Homo sapiens: one gene and its partners. The protein of the gene in region 4 purifies or fractionates together with the protein of the main gene of each other region. This does not show direct contact. Each region holds a gene or a part of one and is shown on either strand. Other genes may lie near its edges.

Region 1 (4,860 bases), on a different chromosome or scaffold from region 4:
AATCCCAGCACTTTGGGAGGCCGAGGCGGGCGGATCATGAGGTCAGGAGATCGAGACCATCCTGGCTAACACAGTGAAAACCCGTCTCTACTAAAAATACAAAAAATTAGCCGGGCGTGGTGGTGGGCGCCTGTAGTCCCAGCTACTCAGGAGGCTGAGGCAGGAGAATGGCGTGAACCCGGGAGGCGGAGCTTGCAGTGAGCCGAGATTGCGCCACTGCACTCCAGCCTGGGCGACAGAGCGAGACTCCATCTCAAAAAAAAAAAAATAGTTTATTAGCTACTCTTAATTTGTTTATTCTTTTAGATGATTATTGGTATCCTTTTTCTTAACTTTGACTTGAACTGGGATTTTGATCAAAATTACCCTAGAACAGTAGACATAACATCTTTAAATATTTAAACAGAATAATACAGGTTGAGCATCCCAAATCCCAAATCCAAAATTCCAAACTTTTTGACTGTCAACGTGAGGTTCAAAGGAAACGCTCATTGGCGCATTTCAGATTTTGGAATTGCGATGCTCATCCAGTAAGTATATATAATGCAATTTTATTTCAAAATCTGAAATTCTAAACACTTCTGATCCCAAGCATTTTGGATAAGGGAGACTCAATCTCTAATAATGATTGAGGGCAGGGCTATTTCAGGCACTGCACTAAATACTTAGTTCAAGCTCCTTTATACTTAATCCTTACAATCACCAATACTATTGTTATATCCATTTGGATATATTGGAAAGATGTAAACATACTTGAGAGATTAATTAAGTGTCCAGGATCACATAACACTTACGAGAATCAAGATTTGAACCCAGGTCTGCAATAATGCAAAGCCTGGATTCTTAATTATTAGGTTGGCTTGAAATATGGTATCCTCAAAATTTATGTAAGTTTTTCAAATTTATCAAGTGTTACAGTTTACTTCACATAGGTCATTTGTGTTTATTAAGGTAATTTCCAAGAACTTTATGTGGTTTTGTTTCTAGTATAATTAGATTTTTTCCTTAATTGGCCAGTGTTAGCAATAAGGAATGCAATTTATTGTTAAAAACACTTCTTATATGCTGTCCCTTTACTGAGCTTTTATTTCTTTGGATTTTTAATGTGTAAACAATCATATAACCTATCAATAATAATAATTTCACCTCTTCCTTTCTAACATTTATACCTGTTACATAAGTTTCACACTCAATTGGATTGGACAACTTCCACAGTATTTTCCTAAAAAGGAAAACTATGGCCAAAAAAAAAAAAAAAAATCAGATTTAACTTAAAATGCCTAGAAATATTTATTTCAAAATGAAATCAATTCTCACCTTGACGGAAAATATTACACCTCCTTTGGGTTTAAATGAATTGAACAGAGCCAGCAAATCTTTTGCCTTTAATCTATCCCAGTCCATGTTACAAACTGCTAATCGACGTGTAATCTGAGAAATGAGAAGAATTAAATAGTACATAATCCATATCATTCTCAATACTTGAAAAATAAAGATTCTAAAAATGTAATGCCTTCTGTCCCCTATGCTCTGAAATTAATAGTACAGGAGTTATCTAAGCGTAATTCAGTATATAAAAGAGAACTTCAAATGAGCCAAACAATAGTAAAACCATAACAGGTAAGTACTTTCTCTTACTTGGTTCTTAATTCTTAAATCAGAACATGATCATGAGCTGATTTTTTAACCACCAAGTTTGTTCAGCTATTTTGCCATGCATGCATGAGTAAGGAAGTTGAGTATGTTACCCTGCAACATTTCTTTTGGGTGCCGTACAAACAGAAATACAAACTACTAGCTAAAACAAGTATTAAAAATTTCATGCAACTTTTAATTATTTATGTAGAGCCTCTTCTTATCTGCTTGGACGTCTTCTAGTTCATATAATTATATTCCATATCAAATTTTAATCAGAATCATAAAGAATACTATTACCAATAAGCTTTTCCCACTTAATGACATCAGTTCTACCAGCCATAAAAGCTGCTTGTACTGTGTTTTTCACAAATAATCTTGTTTATTCAAAAGGTTACCTCATCAGCACGAGGAGCATCTTTATCTAATTCTCTCCAAGCATGCTCAAAACCAGATTCTTCTGGAAACAAATCTGCCGTATCATCTTCATCTTCAGAACTAGTTTCTATATTTCCTTTACCCCTTGCAAGATCAGGGCCACTGTCACTTTTATCATCATCCTCACTATCCTCATCTTCATCCTCCTCTTCATCTTCATCCTCCTCTTCATCATCTTCACTTCCATCGTCATCACCTGAAGCTCTACCAACACTTGTAATTTCATTTTCAGATTCCTCATCACTTCCTATTTCACTAACGCTTTCTGAATCTTCCTCCAGAGCATCTTTGTCACACATTTCACCATCTGTTGAGTTTTCATAACCATCACTGTCTCTTGTCATTATGAGTTGAACCACTGCAAAATGTTAAAGGGGAAAGAAATTAAGAAAAGATATATGCTGAATTAAACTGAATCCAAATTATCTTGACATCAACTCCAGTAAAAATATAATTTCTATGAAACACAGTAAAGACAAATATATATTCAGTAAATGCTTAGTCAATTTTTATGATAGAAATCCTAACCATAACTTCTATGAAACAGAGTAAAGGAAAATACACTTAACCAAGTTATTTAATGGAAATCCTAACACATGCTCACATCACGCAAGTAGATCCAGACATTCATTCAATACTTAACAGTGTGCCTGCTACGTGCTAAGTGCTCAATATACAACAGTTGGTAAAAGAGAAGCAAACAGTGCTCTCAGTGAAACTTCTAGCTGAGTGAAAAGAATACATGGATATCAAATAAAATCAATATATAGGAAAAGTTAAAATCACAACTAAGATATCCCAGAAAGAATGTTTTCTAAGGGGATTTAATGGGGTCCCTAAGTGAGTGATAACTGAGCTGTTACTTGAAGGATGAACAGGAGTTAAATAGTCAAAGTTAGACTAATAGATGGAAATTTGTTTGAAAGAGCAAGGAAGGTACCTGTAAAAATCTGCCAATAGGAAAAAGCCAACCATCATGTCCAGATCACAGATAGCACAGAATCAAGTAACAAATGGAAATGAAGAGTTAAGTAGAGGCCAAGCTATCAAAAAACCATATAGAGAGCTTGGACTTTTTCATAAAAGCAATGGGAAGACACTGCTGTTTTCAAAAAAGAGGATGTCATCTTCTTTTGGATATTGTCATCCTCAGACTTGCATATTGAGGAGATCACCTTGACTATACTGTAGAAAACTGACTTGGGAAAGTAAAGAACAGATGTGAATATAGTAAAGGTAGTACAGTACAAAAAGCAAGAAATGAAGGTAGCACTAAGTTGGGTGGCAGTATGTATGCAGAGATGTACATGGATTTCAGAGTCAGTCAGGAAGTGAAACCAATAATTACCGACTGGAGATTTGACACGGGGACTGGGAGTTTTGGAAGTGTCAAAGATGAGTCATAGCTTCTTAGCTTTCAGAGCTAGTTAGCTAAGAAGATGGAAAGATGAAAAGGGAACACTGGAAATGAACTAGTTTGTTTGGTGGAGGGAAATCATGAGTTCAGTTTTGAATATGTTGAATACGAAGTGCCACTCAGTCATCTAAAAGAAAGTATCAATAATAAGAGTGTACAGCTCAGAGAAGTCTGGGTTGGAGATCAGTGACTCATTCATACGCAGTTGACAACAGAAGCTGTGATGTGGATGAGATCACCTATAAAGACAGAGAAATAATATTTATACTTTTTCTGCCAGGTCTTGAACTTTGTAATCAACTGTCATGATTAGCAATACACCAAGATTGAAAGACTGTTTTTGCTTAAGATGGAAATTTTAGTCCTCACAACTCTGAAAGGGCTCATTTCCTACTTCTAAAGCAATCACAGGCTTCTATCTACTTGGTGTGTAGATATATCTTACGTGTTTTACTCATCTTTAAGTTGGAGCTTATTTTCTGCTTACAGGCTCTAAGTTTGGAAAATTAAAAGCAAATTTAAAAGTTCAAGATTTAGAATGAAATTGGAACTAATTTTCTCTTGGTCCTATAATCTTATAATAGTTATTCACTGACCAAATATTTACTGAGTATCTACTACATACAAAGAATTGAGCTAGGATAAGGGAAAAGAGAGAAGATTTGTAACACGATCTCATGCTCTTGATGGATTCATAAATAAAAGGTAACCATTTACTGATTTATAAATCTATGTTCTCAATCACCATACAGTGAGAGACATCTAAATTTGCCTGCAGAGAGGTATTTATAAAAAGGCTTCACAAAGATACAACTTGACTTGAGACTAACTGAATGAAAAGGCATCTTGTTAGAAGGAAAAGCAGGAAATGGGCTTTTATGTTACCACCACAACGAAGCAGGGATTAATAAAAATAACTAGCCAATAGAAGTGAAAAGCGCCAAAATGAAAGCATTGTCACAGGTTCTATATATGAGATCTGAAAAACACAACATTGAAAGTTACTATGAGGTAAGCAGAATTTACTTTTAAGCAACAAGCTTAGAAATAACATCTTACAGACCCAGTCTATCTAGTATTGCAATATTTCTCAACTGTCAGTCATTATACCATTTTCATGATTTTTGAATATCATTTTTTTATTAAATTGAATTTTTTAAAAGTTAGTTTTGCTCTAAACAATATTCCTAAAGTCACAGAAGTGATAGGGTAATTACATTGTTTTCTAAGATGTTGACACAGTACATAACTATTAATATTTTAGAAGTTTGAGTATCATCAAAAATCTTCTCACTTATGACAATGGTACACATACCACACTTTGGGTTATATAATAATAAAGTGTTGCATAAGAGACTTAAAGAGGTCTT
Region 2 (4,568 bases), on a different chromosome or scaffold from region 4:
TGGCGCGATCTCGGCTCACTGCAAGCTCCGCCTTCTGAGCTCAAGCGATTCTCCTGCCTCAGCCTCCAGAGTAGCTGGGACTACAGGTGTGCACCACCATGCCCAGCTAATTTTTGTATTTTTAGTAGAGATGGAGTTTTACCATGTTGGCCAAGCTGGTCTTGAACTCCTGACCTCAGGGGATCCACCTGCCTCCGCCTCCCAAAGTTCTGGGATTACAGGTGTAAGCCATCACTGGGCGTGGTGGTGTATGCCTGTAATCCCAGCTACTTGGGAGGCTGAGGCAGGAGAATTGCTTGAACCTGGGAGGCGGAGGTTGTAGTGAGCCGAGATCACGCCATTGCACTCCAGCCTGGGCGACAAGAGCGAAACTCCTTCTCAAAAACAAACAAACAAACAAAAGAAATGAGGGCAGAAGCTAGGCCCCTGTGGGGTGTGCATTTTATTCCTGGTGTGTTGGGCGCCCTAGGATGGCTCTGGGCAGAAGAGGGACATGAAGGTGGTCAGACTCTGGATGCCTCGGGCAGGACTGGTGATTTGTTGGGGCCCCCAACCCTGCCCACCCTTTCCTGGCAGGACCTGGAGACCCGCAATGCGGAGTTGGAGCACCAGCTGCGGGCGATGGAGCGCAGCCTGGAGGAGGCACGGGCAGAGCGGGAGCGGGCGCGGGCTGAGGTGGGCCGGGCAGCGCAGCTGCTGGACGTCAGCCTGTTTGAGCTGAGTGAGCTGCGTGAGGGCCTGGCCCGCCTGGCTGAGGCTGCGCCCTGAGCCGGGGCTGGTTTTCTATGAACGATTCCGGCCTGGGATGCGGGCCAGGCTGCAGGCGGCATAGTTGGGCCCATTCGTCCTGGAAAGGGACTGGGGGGTCCCAACTTAGCCCTGGGTGGGCCGGGCCGGGCTGGGCTGGGGTGGGCCCCAGTCGGCTCTGGTTGTTGGCAGCTTTGGGGCTGTTTTTGAGCTTCTCATTGTGTAGAATTTCTAGATCCCCCGATTACATTTCTAAGCGTGGCTGTGTGTGTGTGGTATGTGGGTATCTGGGCACTTAACATGTCGCCGGCGCCTTTCCCTGCGTCTTTTTGGGTGCCCCTGAATCCATGTAGCAGTTATAAGCCGCTTGCAGATGAGGGGTGAGGCTTGGAGTCCGAGGGGGGTCCAGGCCACACAGCCAGGAAGCTGGCTCTGGTGTCTCTCTGCCTGTCCCCTTGGGCTTAGCCCACATTGTCTGGCCAAATTTGGACTTTCATGGCCCCTTCACTCTGGCCACAAACCCCAGATGTGGCCAGGTGGGTGGCCAGGGAAGCTTATAGCTGCACCCATTCGGCACAGGACTGACCTCACCAAAGCCTCACAGCTGCCTCTGGAGAGCAGGGCAGTTGCTATGCCCATTCTCCAGATGAGGAAACTGGAAGCCCAGAGAAGGGGCTTCAGGGCCCAAAATCCCATGGCCATTCGAGCAGCTGGTGTCTGCAAAACTTTGGGCCTGCCTGGTGGAAATGGACATGGTGTTCTGGGCAGACACCTGAGAAACAACAGCGGCTGCACCCCACCTCTCCTGTCCCCCTGCTCTTCGAAAGTCAGACTGAGGAAGTCAAAAGACCCGTTTATTAAGCACCTCCTGTATGCGGCACCCCTGGGGGGTGACCTTGGGTTGGGGTCACAACCTCCCGGTCATGTTCTTTCTTCCCCTGCAGCCTGAATCTTGGCCAGGGCTCAGGGAAGGGACCAGCCAGTGGTTTCGGGGCAGAGGAGCAGGGCCCGCACAACACGAGCGCCCACGGGTTCTGCTGTGGGGCACTGGGTAGGCCCCCGGGAAGGGCTGCTGCCCCCAAGGAAGGTTCCTCCGACCCTCAGCTCCATGGACGAGTCAAGGACTGGGCAGATGGCCGTGTGGGGCTCAGACCAGGCCCTGGGAGGGGACTGGGCCTGAGTGGGACCCAGACGGTGTCCTGGGTGGACGCCCCTTGTGGCCAGCCCTGCCAGCCTTCTGTCGCTTCAGCGTCTCCTCCACCTTCTCCTTGAAGCGCCGGTTCTTCTGCTTGATCTTGGCCAGCTCAGCCTTGCGCTTGGCCTCCAGGTCAGGGTCCTGGCACAGGGAGGACCAGGGGATGGCTGAGCTGGCGGCCCCCGCCAGGGAACCTGGCCACCCACCCCCTACCTGCGGGCTCGGCCCTCACCTTCCCCTCCAGGATCAGCTGCTTCCGTTTGTTGATCTCCTTCTTTTCGTCAAAGTGGGCCGCCTCCAGTTTCTGGTGGAGGGAAGTGGGGTAAGGAGATGCTGGTCACGGGGGCCCCACCTGGAAGGGAGCACCCCCGGCCCTGGAGAGCACTTTAGTTCCTGCCCGCCTCTGACACTCACGATCTCACACTCTCTTCGCACCACGTTGACCTGTGTGAGGATCTGTAGCACCTCGGCCTCTTCCACGGAGAACTCCTCCAGCTTCTTCTCTGTGGGGACAGCAAAGCCGGGGGTGGGGGTGGGGAGGAGACGTGACATGGAGAGGGAGTTCAGCCAAGTAGTGAGTTCCCCATGCTGTGGGGTATGCAAGGCCATCTGGGGCCATATCAGGTAAGGGTCAGCTGAGCAAGATCAGGGATTTCTGAGGTAAGGAAGGTATGGACCGCTGTCTTTCAGAGTCTCACGGTCACCCAAGCTGGAGTGCAGTGGCACTATCTCGGCTCACTGCAACATCCGCCTCCCGGGTTCAAGTAATTCTCATGCCTCAGCCTCCCCCCGCCATTTTTTTTCGGTGTTAGCAGCATTATGAGTTTAACCATGAATATTAATTTCTTGCAAACAGTGTCCTTTAAAGTCCAGATATTTCTTTCTTTTTTTTTGAAGACAGGGTCTTACTCTGTCGCCCATGCTGGAGCGTGGTGGCTCAATCAGGTCACTGTAGCCTCCGCTCAAGCAATCTTCCAACCTCAGCCTCTTGAGTAGTTGGAACTACGGGCGTGTGCTGCTAGTTTCTATATTTTTTGGAGAGGCAGGGTTTCTCCACATTGCCCAGGCTGATCTCAAACTCCTGGGCTCAAGTGATCCACCCACCTTGGCCTCCCAAAGTGCTGGGATTACAGGTGTGAGCCACCGTGCCCGGCCTTAAAGTCCAGATGTTTCTCTTTTTTTTTTTTTTTTTTTTTTTGAGACAGAGTCTCACTGTCACCCAGGCTGGAGCGTAATGGCGCGACCTTGGCTCACTGCAACCTTTGCCTCCCGGGTTCAAGTAATTCTCATGCCTCACCCTCCCAAGTAGCTGCAATTACAGGCGTGCGCCACCACACCTGGCTAATTTTTGTATTTTTAGTAGAGACGGGGTTTCACCATGTTGCCCAGGTTGGTCTTGAACTCCTGGGCTCAAGTGATCCGCCCACCTCGGCCTCTCAAAGTGCTAGGATTACAAGTGTGAGCCACTGTGCCTGGCCAAGTCCAGATGTTTCTAAATTTCAGGACAGTCTATGCAGTGATCAGAGATACCTTAGGAAGTGTCTCTGTCTTGGCTGCATATGAAACCATTCCCAGGGGTTTTTAGCAGGCCAGGCCCTGTCAATGGGGCCTCTGACATCTCAGGGACCTTCCATACATCTCAGTCTAAGAAACCCAAGTCCCCTCCTGACTGATGTGGCTTTCAGCTGCTGGCGACAACTATGGGGAGTTTGTTTCAATAAATGGGCAAAAGAACTTCTTTTGGGGGTGCCTAGGGAAGGAAGCCCCAGCCTAAATCTGCTCACGGGAGCAGGCCGGCTGGTGTCTGACGGGAAAATGGGTCTCACCCCGAGGTGCCCACCTCTGCCCACCCCACCCCTCCTTCTCTACCACCCACCCCAACCCCACTCACTGATCTGCTCCTCGATGGCGTGCACCAGGTGGATGTCGTACTGTGTCACCAGCGTGATGGCCTGACCCTGCCGCCCTGTGGGGATGTGCCGGTTATCTGCTATGTGCTGGGCGTCAGGACATGGGGCGAATAAAGGTAGATCCTGACAGCTACACAGCTCAGGGGTCCTGGAGATGCTGAACAAGGGCTTGGGCTTGGGAGGGATCAGCCCAGAGTGTCTGGGCTTGACCCCAAGCAGGACCACTGTGTGGAGGACGGGTCGCTGGGGAGAGGCAGGTCTGCCAGTCTGGCCTTACACAGCAGTTAGTTACTGCCCGATTTCCCTTTTTGGCTTGGCTGCCAGGGAACCCAGTCTAAGTAATGCCAGCCATTAGCCCTGACGGGCCTCAGCCCAAGATCTCTGCTTGCTGTTTTCTGTGACGTTGACTAGGGCCGAAACTGCACTGATGGTGGACAAGGTCCGTGACCCTCATGGCAGCCCCACGAGGACGTCACCATTCTCATTATCCACCATGTGAGGTCTAGGGAGTGGAAGTGACCTGCCCAGCACCACAGGGTCAGGATAGAAGGTCCAGGCCCAGTCCGACCCCAGCAACCACATCTTTCCTGGCTTCAGAACTGACAGCATCTCATGGACACCATGCCCCTCCCTGACGAGGCAGCAGCAAGTAGTGGGGGCCGGAGCTGTGTGTGCACCCTCCCAGGGGGCAGCCCCACACTGCTCAGTTCATCACC
Region 3 (4,860 bases), on a different chromosome or scaffold from region 4:
TGATGCCATAGTGCCTTGTCCTCACCTCACTGCCAGCCCCTTCCCCGTGGCAATGACCTGCAGGTGTACCCTCTGCTTCAGCCTCGACACTCTCCAAGACTGCTTCATCTTTGTCTTCTCACTCCACTTGCAGTAGCAAGTCCTCAAAGATTGTTTGAAGGGCCCAAATGTGAGTTTTAGTCTTTGCTATTATTTTCTGTACCACCTTGGCTAAGTACCTCAAAATTCTCAGTGCTTCTATTTTGTCATACACAAAACAAAGATAAACTGTTGGGCCCAACTAAAAGTTCTGAAGTTCTGAAGTGGAAGAACAGTGAATACCACAGAATAGCTGGGGCAGGCAGGCAGCCTGGGCCCTCCCACAACAATGCCAAGATGACTGAGTCTCAGAGGATCACAGAAAGTCCCCCTCCATGCGGTCAGATCAGGCCTTTGGCCTTTGGGTAAGGCTGTACTCAACTACCAAAGAAAGACAGCTTTATCTCTCTTTCAAAGAGTTCCAGCAAACCTTTGAAGTCAATGTTATGATGTTCCTGGCTAGGTGACATTGGGGAAAAGCTTCCTGTGATTTGCCCCAATTCCCTCCCCTCAGCGTCAATCCTCGGTGGAGGCAAAGAACATTTGCTCATGGCCAGCAGCTCACATCAGGTGCCTTGCTCATTCACAGCCTAAAAAATGGAGGCGAGGGGCAGGGAAAATTGTAGTTCATTCTTTATTTTGAAACCTTAATCAATGAATTAATGCCATCATTACACATTTTCTAAGACAGGAGACAAAAAGTTACAGCAAACTTGGGGTTCTCTGGGAGTTGTGGTTTACCAGGCCCACTGACACCATTCAGTTCCTTAGAAGGAGCTTGTCTCCCTTTGCATTAATTATCTTACATTGAAAAGATTCTGTTACTTTCATTTATCCTCCTAGGAAAAGTGGATTATATGCAAAATCATTAGATGACCCTTCTCATGGTAATTCTGAGTTCCATTTTACCTTTACAGGTTTATAATTAGACTTCGTATTCTAGGTTTGAATGTGTCCTAACTTTACAAAAGTCAGTGAATACTGTTAATTTCTTTTAAAAAGGTACTAGAAATAGTATATCCGGGTTTATGTTTTTCTCCTGGACCTAATTCTTCTGCCTCTGTACATTTTAGCAAGCAAACCTTTTAAGCATTTTGCCTCTTGGACTACTGCTTTTTTTCTGCATAAGGAATAGCAGTTACAAAGCCAAAAGGACCTTCTTTACATGGATCTTGCTTTGTCTTTACCTTGACAGAGGAGTGAATTAAAGATGCATTCAGCTATTGCATCAACTGGATGTTAACAAGAGAAGATAATCCGTTACATGATGTGCCTTCTTCTGTGCCCCAGAAACTTCTTCATACCTTTACCATCCCTCTCCTCTTTCAATCCCAGCTTCTGAAAAAAGAACTCGTCCTGCACTAGGTCCTTAATCCCATGAGAAGCTTCCATAACTCCCTGTCGCTTCTCTTACAATATAAAAGGTGCTCACGCCTTGAACCTTAAAAAAGTTCTTCAATCACTTGCAGATGATTTTTAAACTAGGACACATAGTTGGCTTTGGTGGACTGTAAAGAACTGAAGTAAAGGCGAAATGTTAAAAAAAATAAAAAATAAAAAAACAGCCAGAAAAACAAACCTTTACCCTGCCATGTGTGAAACTGTAGATGAGCTAGAACGAGAGTCCCCAGCTTAATGAAAACTGCCGAGGGTGGCAATAGTCCTGCTTGCCTGTGTTTCAGGGGTGGGCAAGATAAGGGATAGTGAAGATAGGGGAGTGACTAAGAGCATATCACAAGTTCATGTAGATAGTAACTTTCATGATACTGGCAAATAAGTAGCTGGACGTTACACAATAATACTTTACCTTTCTGGTTCTAACGCATTATCTTTTACGGTAGTTACAAGGACAGCCACATGTTATCAGTATTTATATGCTATTACAACACATTTGACTAAGGAGCTGATCTCAGTGTAAGATGCTTTGCTAGCATGTATACAAAAAATCAAAATGAATTAAAGGAAGTAAAGGCTTAATGTAAAAATAAAATAGGGCAGGGATAAGCACGTTTTTTCTGTGAAGGGTCAGTAAACAGGATAGGCTTTGCAGGCTCTCCATCTCCGTCACAACTCCACTCTGCCATTGTAGCATGAAAGCAGTCAAAGACAATATGTAAATACATGGGCATGGCTGTGTTCCAGTACAAATTTATTTACAAAAACAGGCAGCAGGAAGGACTGGCACACAAGCCATAGTTTGTCAAGCCCTGAAGATGAGGAAATCCCCCAAATAAGCAGAAGCACTTTAGTACTCTCCATAGAGCCCTCACTTACCCCTAGGTTACAGGGCTACATACAAGCTGTGTTTAACCTTAGAATATAAGCTCTGTGAGGTCAGAAACGTTGCAATATTCACAACTGTATTCCCAGTACTCAGTTCCCAGAGAACTGGCATAGTTGGCACAAGTACGGACTCACAATAAAGACATGTTCAATGAATTAACTAATGAATGAACAACTTATGGAGCTTTAAAAGGCAATCCTGACCATAGATGATTTTCCTATACTACCACGTCCACCCTCACTGTCATCCCGTCACGCCCCACTTCTTTGCAAACTGGACAACTGTACTGGGACTAGGGTACCAAAATTATGACTCCTTCTAAAAACTTTTACACTAATTTAGGAAAAAACTTGCTTTTCAACAGCTAAGATCACATGAAGGCATGTATATCTTACATTTTTCTTACTCCCCTTTGTCTTAGTTAAATCATTCTCTAGTAAATTCTCTTTCAAAGCAAAGGCAATGTCCAAGAGGGCAAAACCATTAATAACTATCTTTTGGGAACCACAAGTTCATGCAGATAGTAACTTTCATGATATTGCCAAATACGTATTTGGGCATTATACAATAGTACTTTCCTTTCCGGTTCTCAGGCATTATCTTTTATGGTAGTCAAAAGAGCAGTCACATGTTATCAATACTTTATCACAGGTCATGCTTCACCTATAGAAAGGTAAAAAATAACTCACACTGATCTCTCCTAAAAAAACGTGTGGTTCTCATAAGCTCTGGGCCATCGTTATACATTTATTAAGTGGCTACTAAGGGTTCTTGACATGGTGGGAAAAGCACCAAATGAAAAGCAAGGCACTATTGTGGCCCTTTCATTTCAAAAAAAGTGAGTTAGGATGACAATCATCTGCTAGGAACTACAAGTTCACGCAGATAGTTACTTTCATGATATTGTCAAATATAGTTGGACATCACACTTATAATACTTTATCTTTTGGTTCAGAGGCATTATCTTTTATAGCAGCCATGATGAGCTTATTTAAAGATAAAATATAACTGAATGCTAATTAACATAGATTTGAATGCTAAATTCATTAGGAACTATGTTCAAAGCCTAATGTTGAACAAACTTCAGACAATAGAGTTAAGAATTTTTTTTTTCTGTAAAGGACCTTAATGATCACTTGACATTCTCACTCTACAGATGAGATCCAACTAAGAAGAACAGAATACTTGCTATCTTCAGAGTAGAATATTTTGAAATGTGTGAGTATAATACATGTTTTATAGCCAACTAAAGATGTATCAAATGTTCCCCACGTGCTCCTTGGTAAAAAGCATATGAATATTTTGCTAATCCTGAGCCCATATAGTTTAAAAAAAGGGGGGAGCAGATGTTTGAAGATGTGCTATCCTCAAACTCAAACATGACTTCACATGTCAACATATGTTGGATTTGATTTCAGCCTGCTCAGGTAAGTCCCACGACAAGACACTCTTCCTACCCAGGAAGACTTCAACTTTCAAAGCACAGAGAGTCAGGTACTTAATGTGCAAAGATAGTTCAGTTTCCTTGGAAGAAAATCAGGAATAGAAGCCTTCTGTTTGGGTTGAGTGTTTCCCTAAAACCTGTTGAGTAGTAGTTTTTCCTAATATTGGACAGCAGTTAACTAGGAGCAGACAGATTGAATGAAGATGCCCATATCAACCTTGGTTACCACCTTGAGGTAGGCCTGAGCTGCTGCTTTTACTTCTTTGGCTGCAATCAAAGGCATCTCTGATTTTCTTCCTGCCACAACATTTCCTTAGCATTTTAATGCAATTTGCCCCAGAAAATGATTTGTTTCACCAAATTCTTTTTACTAGGTAATTTTCTAGAACACATGTGCTTTTATAAGGAAGTTAAAACTGTATTTCAAAGGTAAGCACAACCACAAACTAAGACACAATTACACTGTAATCCCAAAACGTGTATAAGTCATCCGGCACACACACACCTCTGTTTGCGCATTCTCCCTGATTCAACCACATCAACCATAAACACTGAGGTTCACAGATAGGAGAGTTCTAATACTCTAAACATAGGCCCTTCTCAGAAAGCCACAGTCATCAAAGACCACAGGTGAAAGACAACAGTTAAATGAGATACTATTCACAGGCTTTCAGATCAACATACACAGAGAGGTCATTATATCCAGAATTCTCCCAAGGAACCACCAGGCAAATACACACACTCACATAGATCCCACAAGCAGAAAAATGCATTTTATAAGGGCAGACATCAATAGAACGGCTAGGTACCACTCCAACTCTGCAAGATCCTACAAAATGAAATGGAGGAGACTGCTGCAAGAGGAGCAGTATAAAAAAAAAAAATTAAGCAGTAGTGTTCCTGGCAAGGTTCAGATGGAAAAACAGCAACAGATCCCAGAAGCAGAGCTGCAGCCAGGAATAACCTAAGCTCAAGCCATTTTAAGTAAGGGCAGGATAATACTTACTAAGGATTCACTGCATGGTTACCCTGGTTCTCTAGGCCTCCAGGCTGA
Region 4 (5,470 bases):
TATTCAGATTTCCCATAAAACTTGGCAATGTGTATTACCAGTGAAAATCTAAAGTTTCTACTTGGGAAGGAATACCCAGTGATGGGTAATCCCTCATTCTGAGAACACAGTCAGAATATCTTGGAGCTACCAACATTGTGCTTGGCTCTTAATGCGAAGTTTTCAGGGTTGGGGATGTGCTAAAAACACTTTTAACCAATCAATCTGCAAACCATTCTTACACGTTTCTCTTCTTTATTCTTCTTTCCTTCTTTTCTTTTTTCTTTCCTCTTGCTCTTTCAAAAACCACCTCTTGGAACTAAGGGTAACAATGATTCCTGGTCATAATTTTACCTATTCTTGTCAATACAGATTTTAAAATTAATTTTGAGATTTATCTATTGCTAGGCCTAACAGTTTTCAAAGACCACAACGTAACATTAAAATTCCTGACCTTTCCAGTTGAGACACAGCAGTACTATATGAAGTATTATAGTCTGCTGCAGAAAGTAATGCAACCCTATCAGTGAAGAAGCATAAATGGTGGGAGCCTATCATAACCTGTATATGCTGATTCTCCTGAAGGGAACACACCTATGTTTGGCAGCAAATGGGTAAAAACAAGTTCATGAGTGAGGTAAAGAGTTGAAAACAAGTTAAGGACTGCAGAATATGGGCAGACACAGAGAATCTTAACCTAAAACAGTTCTAAGGAATTTAATTTACTTTTCCTTTCTTCACATGTTTTTGGGGAAAAAATTACAGAATTAGCCAATCTAAAAAAATGAAACAAATCACTATAATTAAAAATATATACATTTAGTATGGTCTAGCACCTGAACAAAATTCAGATCTTGTGTTTTGACTAAAGAACTGTATTTTCTGTCTATCAAATCAGGTGCTCTCATAATTATTAAACTTTGGGTATCTACACAGAAACTTATTCCAAAGTTCACTGCTCATGGACTTACAAATATTTAGGATCAATATTAGAGATGCTTTAATGGCACCAGATGAAAAGTATACCCAAGTCTAGAGGATCATACAAATTTCAACTACAGACCAGAAAGTTTCATATTTTTAGCAGCAGAAATAATATTCATTAGTTTAAGGTTTTCAGTTTCTCATTAGTCTTAATAATTTTTTTCTCCCAGATTTATGAGTCATAGATGAAAATCTTACAGTCTATACTCTTCATTGTTGCCTACGTTGTGTAAAAACTATAGTTAACTGTTTTTAATAACTTTGCAATGTCTAAAAATAAATATGTAAGGACAATGTATCGCTGTCATATGGGATTCAGTAAACAATCTAGTTGGGTTAAGAATGCAGCCTTGGCCGGTGCAGTGATCCCAGCAGTCTGGGAGGCCAAAGGAGGAGGATCACTTGGTCTAGGAGTTCAAGACCAGCCTGGGCACCATAGTGAGACCTCATCTCTACAAAAAATAAAAATGAAGTTAACCAGGTGTGGTGGAGCATGCCTATAATCCTAGATACTCAAGAGGCTGAGGCAGGAGAATGGCCTGAGCCCAGGAGTTCGAAGCTGCAGTGAGCTATGACTTAGCCACTATACTCCAGCCTGGGCAACAGAGTGAGATGCCATTCTTTTAAAAAAAAAGAAAAAAAAAAAGAATGTAGCCTCAATAGAGAATTATTTATTATGTCCAAAAGAGCACAATGAAAACATCCCCAACAACACATAAACCTATATATAAAATATAGAATATCTCCAGTATTTTTACTTTATATGGCAGCACGCCAATATATGCAAGAGAACATATTGATGGGGCAGGGGGAAAACTGATCCGGGCAATGACACAGTCAGGCATTACATTCGGAGACCAGGTAAACAGCAATTTTAATCTGAAAAGCAGTATGAGAAGAGTTCCTATGAAGCTGGGATTTACATACTTCATTCTCCGTTCCTGGTCATTTCATCCACAGCTTGACTGTTGTCAATCATGGTTCCTTGCCTTTGGAGTGGTACTATAAAGGTACAGAGAATGCCCATCTCAGTACCAAAATTTCACCATGAAAAATCATAACAGAAATGACAAAGCTTAAAGAAAAGTACGCCGGATTTCAGAAGTATTTACCATAATAATTTTTAAGAAAGCTTACCATAAATACTTCCAAAAACAACAGGCTTTACAAAATATTATACAACATCCTGTGTACAGCAGTAAGTATCTACTCAGGCCATTTGTCAAGCTGTTTAGTAATTAGTTTCTCATGTACCCTCTTGTCTCAAGAAGGTCAATAATCATCTGATTTCCTCTCTAGCTAATGATCTGTTGTTAGCCTACTTTTAACAATGGAAGAAGGAACTGGTATATGTTTTAAGTCAACCAGTTCTCCTTAAGTCTCATAGTTTCTGTTTCAACATCATGTTATTGTGTACTTACAGAAGCAATCTCTCAGTTAGGAAAAATAAAATCAGTTTCAGGGCTCAGAAAGTAAAAAGGGAAATTCTTTCCCAATCTCCCCCTCCCTCCCACCCGGCTTTTTTTGTTTAAAAAATTAAATTAAATTTAAATGTACAAGACCAAGCACAGGCACTTTCCAAAAAACAAAACTGAAGCCAAATCACAAAACTACTCAATAGTTATAGAAGACAGCTCTGATTTTGGGGGGTCATCTCTGGTTGCCTCAGCACAAGCACTGCTCTTTGGCTGCTCTGGCACTTCTTCCTCTTTTTCTGCCAGCCCACCAAGAGACCCCAAGGGAAAAGTGCTTTCACAATTCTGGGTTGAGGAGACCTGTGAAATGACAGGCATTTGAACAGAGGAGTTGCTTTCAAAACCGTGTTCTCCAAGATCATATTGAACAAGGGTCTCTTCTTGTTCCTGGTTTAAGTAGTCCGGTACTAGGAAATCACTAGATAAGAGGCAAAGGATGAAATATGGAATTAATTTTCAAACCAGTAATAGATAAGCAACAGTAAAAAGCTCTGATTTATACAACAAAATTGGGACTCTTCATTTCACTAATTGTTCAGTGAAGATTAAAACTCAGGAACTTTCAACTTATAAACTTTCCTAAATATGAACCAAAACATCCATTAAAACCAAAATGTATCAATCTTCCCCACCACCAATACATCAGGTTAATTATCACTTTCATTATAACTCTGGACACCTTAACAGCCTTTCTTGTTCTATGTAGAGGAGTTTCTATATACAAAACAAATGTAGCATGCTCACTTAAACAAAGATCATCTGAGTAACTTTAATGCTAAACTTTTCTTGATTATACATTGAGTAAGAGATATATAAACCTAGCTTTGTATTACTAAACTTGACATAGGTTAGTTAAGAAACTAAGTCCTTATGCATAAATGACCTGATACATAATCTACTATAAAGTTGGGAAATGTAGAAAGTAATTTATGTGTATCCTGCTATTACATTTGGTATATGAAAATACTAATAAAGAATTTGGAAATGAATGCCTTGAGATTGGTTATGTGATAATCCTCAAAACGTGTTCAATTATTGGTCCCCACAGGCAACATGGACAGTAAAATATACTAAAAACAGTGGCTACTTTCCTTAAGTGATGAAATAGAAAATATTTTAAATTTCTTCTTCATACTTTTCTGTATTTCCTAAATTTCCTACTTATAAGCATCTTTTGGTAATTGAAACTAAGTATGTGAAATAAGTCTTATCTTAGAGGCTTTATTTAAATCTTTATTACTGAACTAAGAACTTCATTATACCATAATTGTCAATAATATATGTACTTAGACTTGATAAGGTTATTTTATAATTTCATTGTTCAGTATTAATAAAAAATTAAAATCTGTTCATCTGCAAAGTAATTTAGAATGCCCTATGTTATATTTTCTAAAAAGTCTTCATTCAGGTGTTAGAGAAGAAGAATGGAGAATACAGGGCTCTGTACAGGGACGATAAAGATAACATGAGTAGTTAACAGGAACACTATTTTAGTCCTGAACAAACTATGTTTAATATGATATGTATAACCTAAGGTTTAGTGATATGGCAACCACACATTCAGAATTAGAGATGACTGCATTAAACAAAATGAATGTCTGGTTTGAAGGGAAAAACAAAATCTACGCAGGAATAATTTGGAATTTGTTTACAAATAAGGTTTTAAGTCAGGGGTGGTGCCCACACTTGTAGCCCCAGCAGGAGAACTGCTTGACCTCAGGAGTTCGAGGCTGCAGTGCACTATGATTGTGTCTATGAACAGCCACTGCACTTCAGCCTGGGCAACACTGCAAGACCCTATCTATTCAATTAAAAAAAAAAAAGGTTTTAAAAATAAGGGTGATTTAAAATGTAAAGATTTGGGCTGGGCATGGTGGCTCACGCCTGTAATCCCACAGCACTTTGGGAGGCTGAAGCAGGCGGATCACTTGAGGTCAGGGGTTCGAGATCAGACTGGCCAACATGGTGAAACCCCATCTCTACTAAAAATACAAATATTAGCTGGGTGTAGTGGTGGGCACCTGTAATCCCAGCTACTCAGGAGGCTGAGGTTGCAGTAAGCCGAAATCGTGCCACTGCATTCCAGCCTGGGTGACAGTGAGACTCCATCTCAAAAAAAAAAAAAAGAAAGATTTGTAAAAATTTCATTTTATGAGAAACTAAGGATTCCTACAGAAGTACAATTCTTATAAACAATTTAAAACAACAGTTTTATATCTAGAGAAGGCCTTAGAAACCATCGTTTAAAGCTTACATTTTATCTTTCTCTAAGTTTCAAGCTTTTTCATGTGTAAAGTGACAGGTTTAATCAACAGCAGTTAGTGGCAGAGCTAGATCTAGAAGCTGATTTCCTGGGATGCCCTATAAATCAGAAAGGTAATTCTATTATAAATTAATATTACAAGAATAGAGCTCTAAACTGAATGAAAATAGCAATGACTTCATGATCTAAACCATCACACCCACTATAGTTGCCTTTGAAATTTTTCTTACTGGCCAATGGCTATTCCTTTATATAGAATATTTTTAAATAGAGAGAAGTGGTAAAGAATTTTATTAACATCTAGAGTCTGGAGTAATCCAGTATCACTAAGCATCATCTGACATGGTAAAATTTCCAGTAAGATCTATTTAAGGTCCATTACAGAATTACTTAAACCTTGTATTATTTAAAAAATATCTCAAGAGGACAAGTAGTCTACTTCTGCAGGAAAATATTTTTAATACCAACTATAAAATGTTTATAATTTTATATACGTAGAAGACTCAGCAAAATTTTATCAGATCAGGAGATTAGAGTATGAACAGTGGGAATCCGTAACAAATGTGACTGACTAGCTGGCAACCTGATGTAAAAACACAGAAGGCTGCCCTAAAAGCAGGAAAAGAGAGTTTAGAAAGCAGTTTTCCTGGTTGGGTTTTCGTTGTGCACCTCACCTGCTCTGGAAGTAGTTTGCTAGCTCTGATGCTTCATGGTTCAGACTCCTCAGGTGCACGATTAAATTTCCAGAGTTGGTGAACATGGCGCCACA

Evidence for each region. Proteins that work in one complex are often made in the same cells at the same time.
Region 1: the proteins of ZBTB44 (region 4) and ESF1 purify together in Homo sapiens (affinity purification with mass spectrometry; one large-scale study listed by BioGRID and IntAct). This does not show direct contact.
Region 2: the proteins of ZBTB44 (region 4) and DDX49 purify together in Homo sapiens (affinity purification with mass spectrometry; one large-scale study listed by BioGRID and IntAct). This does not show direct contact.
Region 3: the proteins of ZBTB44 (region 4) and CILK1 purify together in Homo sapiens (affinity purification with mass spectrometry; one large-scale study listed by BioGRID and IntAct). This does not show direct contact.

What each region holds. Positions count from the first base shown.
Region 1 is NC_000020.11:13,773,840-13,778,699, forward strand, and holds part of ESF1 (ESF1 homolog), read right to left. Parts: intron 2,432-4,860; coding exon 2,034-2,431; intron 1,432-2,033; coding exon 1,318-1,431; intron 1-1,317. UniProt on the Homo sapiens protein: May constitute a novel regulatory system for basal transcription. Negatively regulates ABT1.
Region 2 is NC_000019.10:18,925,643-18,930,210, reverse strand, and holds the end of DDX49 (probable ATP-dependent RNA helicase DDX49), read right to left. Parts: intron 3,909-4,568; coding exon 3,834-3,908; intron 2,446-3,833; coding exon 2,357-2,445; intron 2,247-2,356; coding exon 2,175-2,246; intron 2,084-2,174; coding exon 1,895-2,083; 3' UTR 1,581-1,894; downstream 1-1,580. Other genes in the region: HOMER3 (homer protein homolog 3), read left to right, coding at 577-768. UniProt on the Homo sapiens protein: ATP-dependent RNA helicase that plays a role in various aspects of RNA metabolism including the regulation of mRNA export and the levels of pre-ribosomal RNA. Regulates the stability and synthesis of pre-ribosomal RNA and thereby regulates cell proliferation.
Region 3 is NC_000006.12:53,054,245-53,059,104, forward strand, and holds part of CILK1 (serine/threonine-protein kinase ICK), read right to left. Parts: intron 1-4,860.
Region 4 is NC_000011.10:130,231,418-130,236,887, forward strand, and holds part of ZBTB44 (zinc finger and BTB domain-containing protein 44), read right to left. Parts: coding exon 5,376-5,470; intron 4,800-5,375; exon of another isoform or gene 4,693-4,799; intron 2,857-4,692; coding exon 2,739-2,856; coding exon of another isoform or gene 2,574-2,738; exon of another isoform or gene 1,966-2,573; coding exon 1,939-1,965; coding exon of another isoform or gene 1,892-1,938; 3' UTR 1,891-1,891; exon of another isoform or gene 299-1,890; 3' UTR 1-298. UniProt on the Homo sapiens protein: May be involved in transcriptional regulation.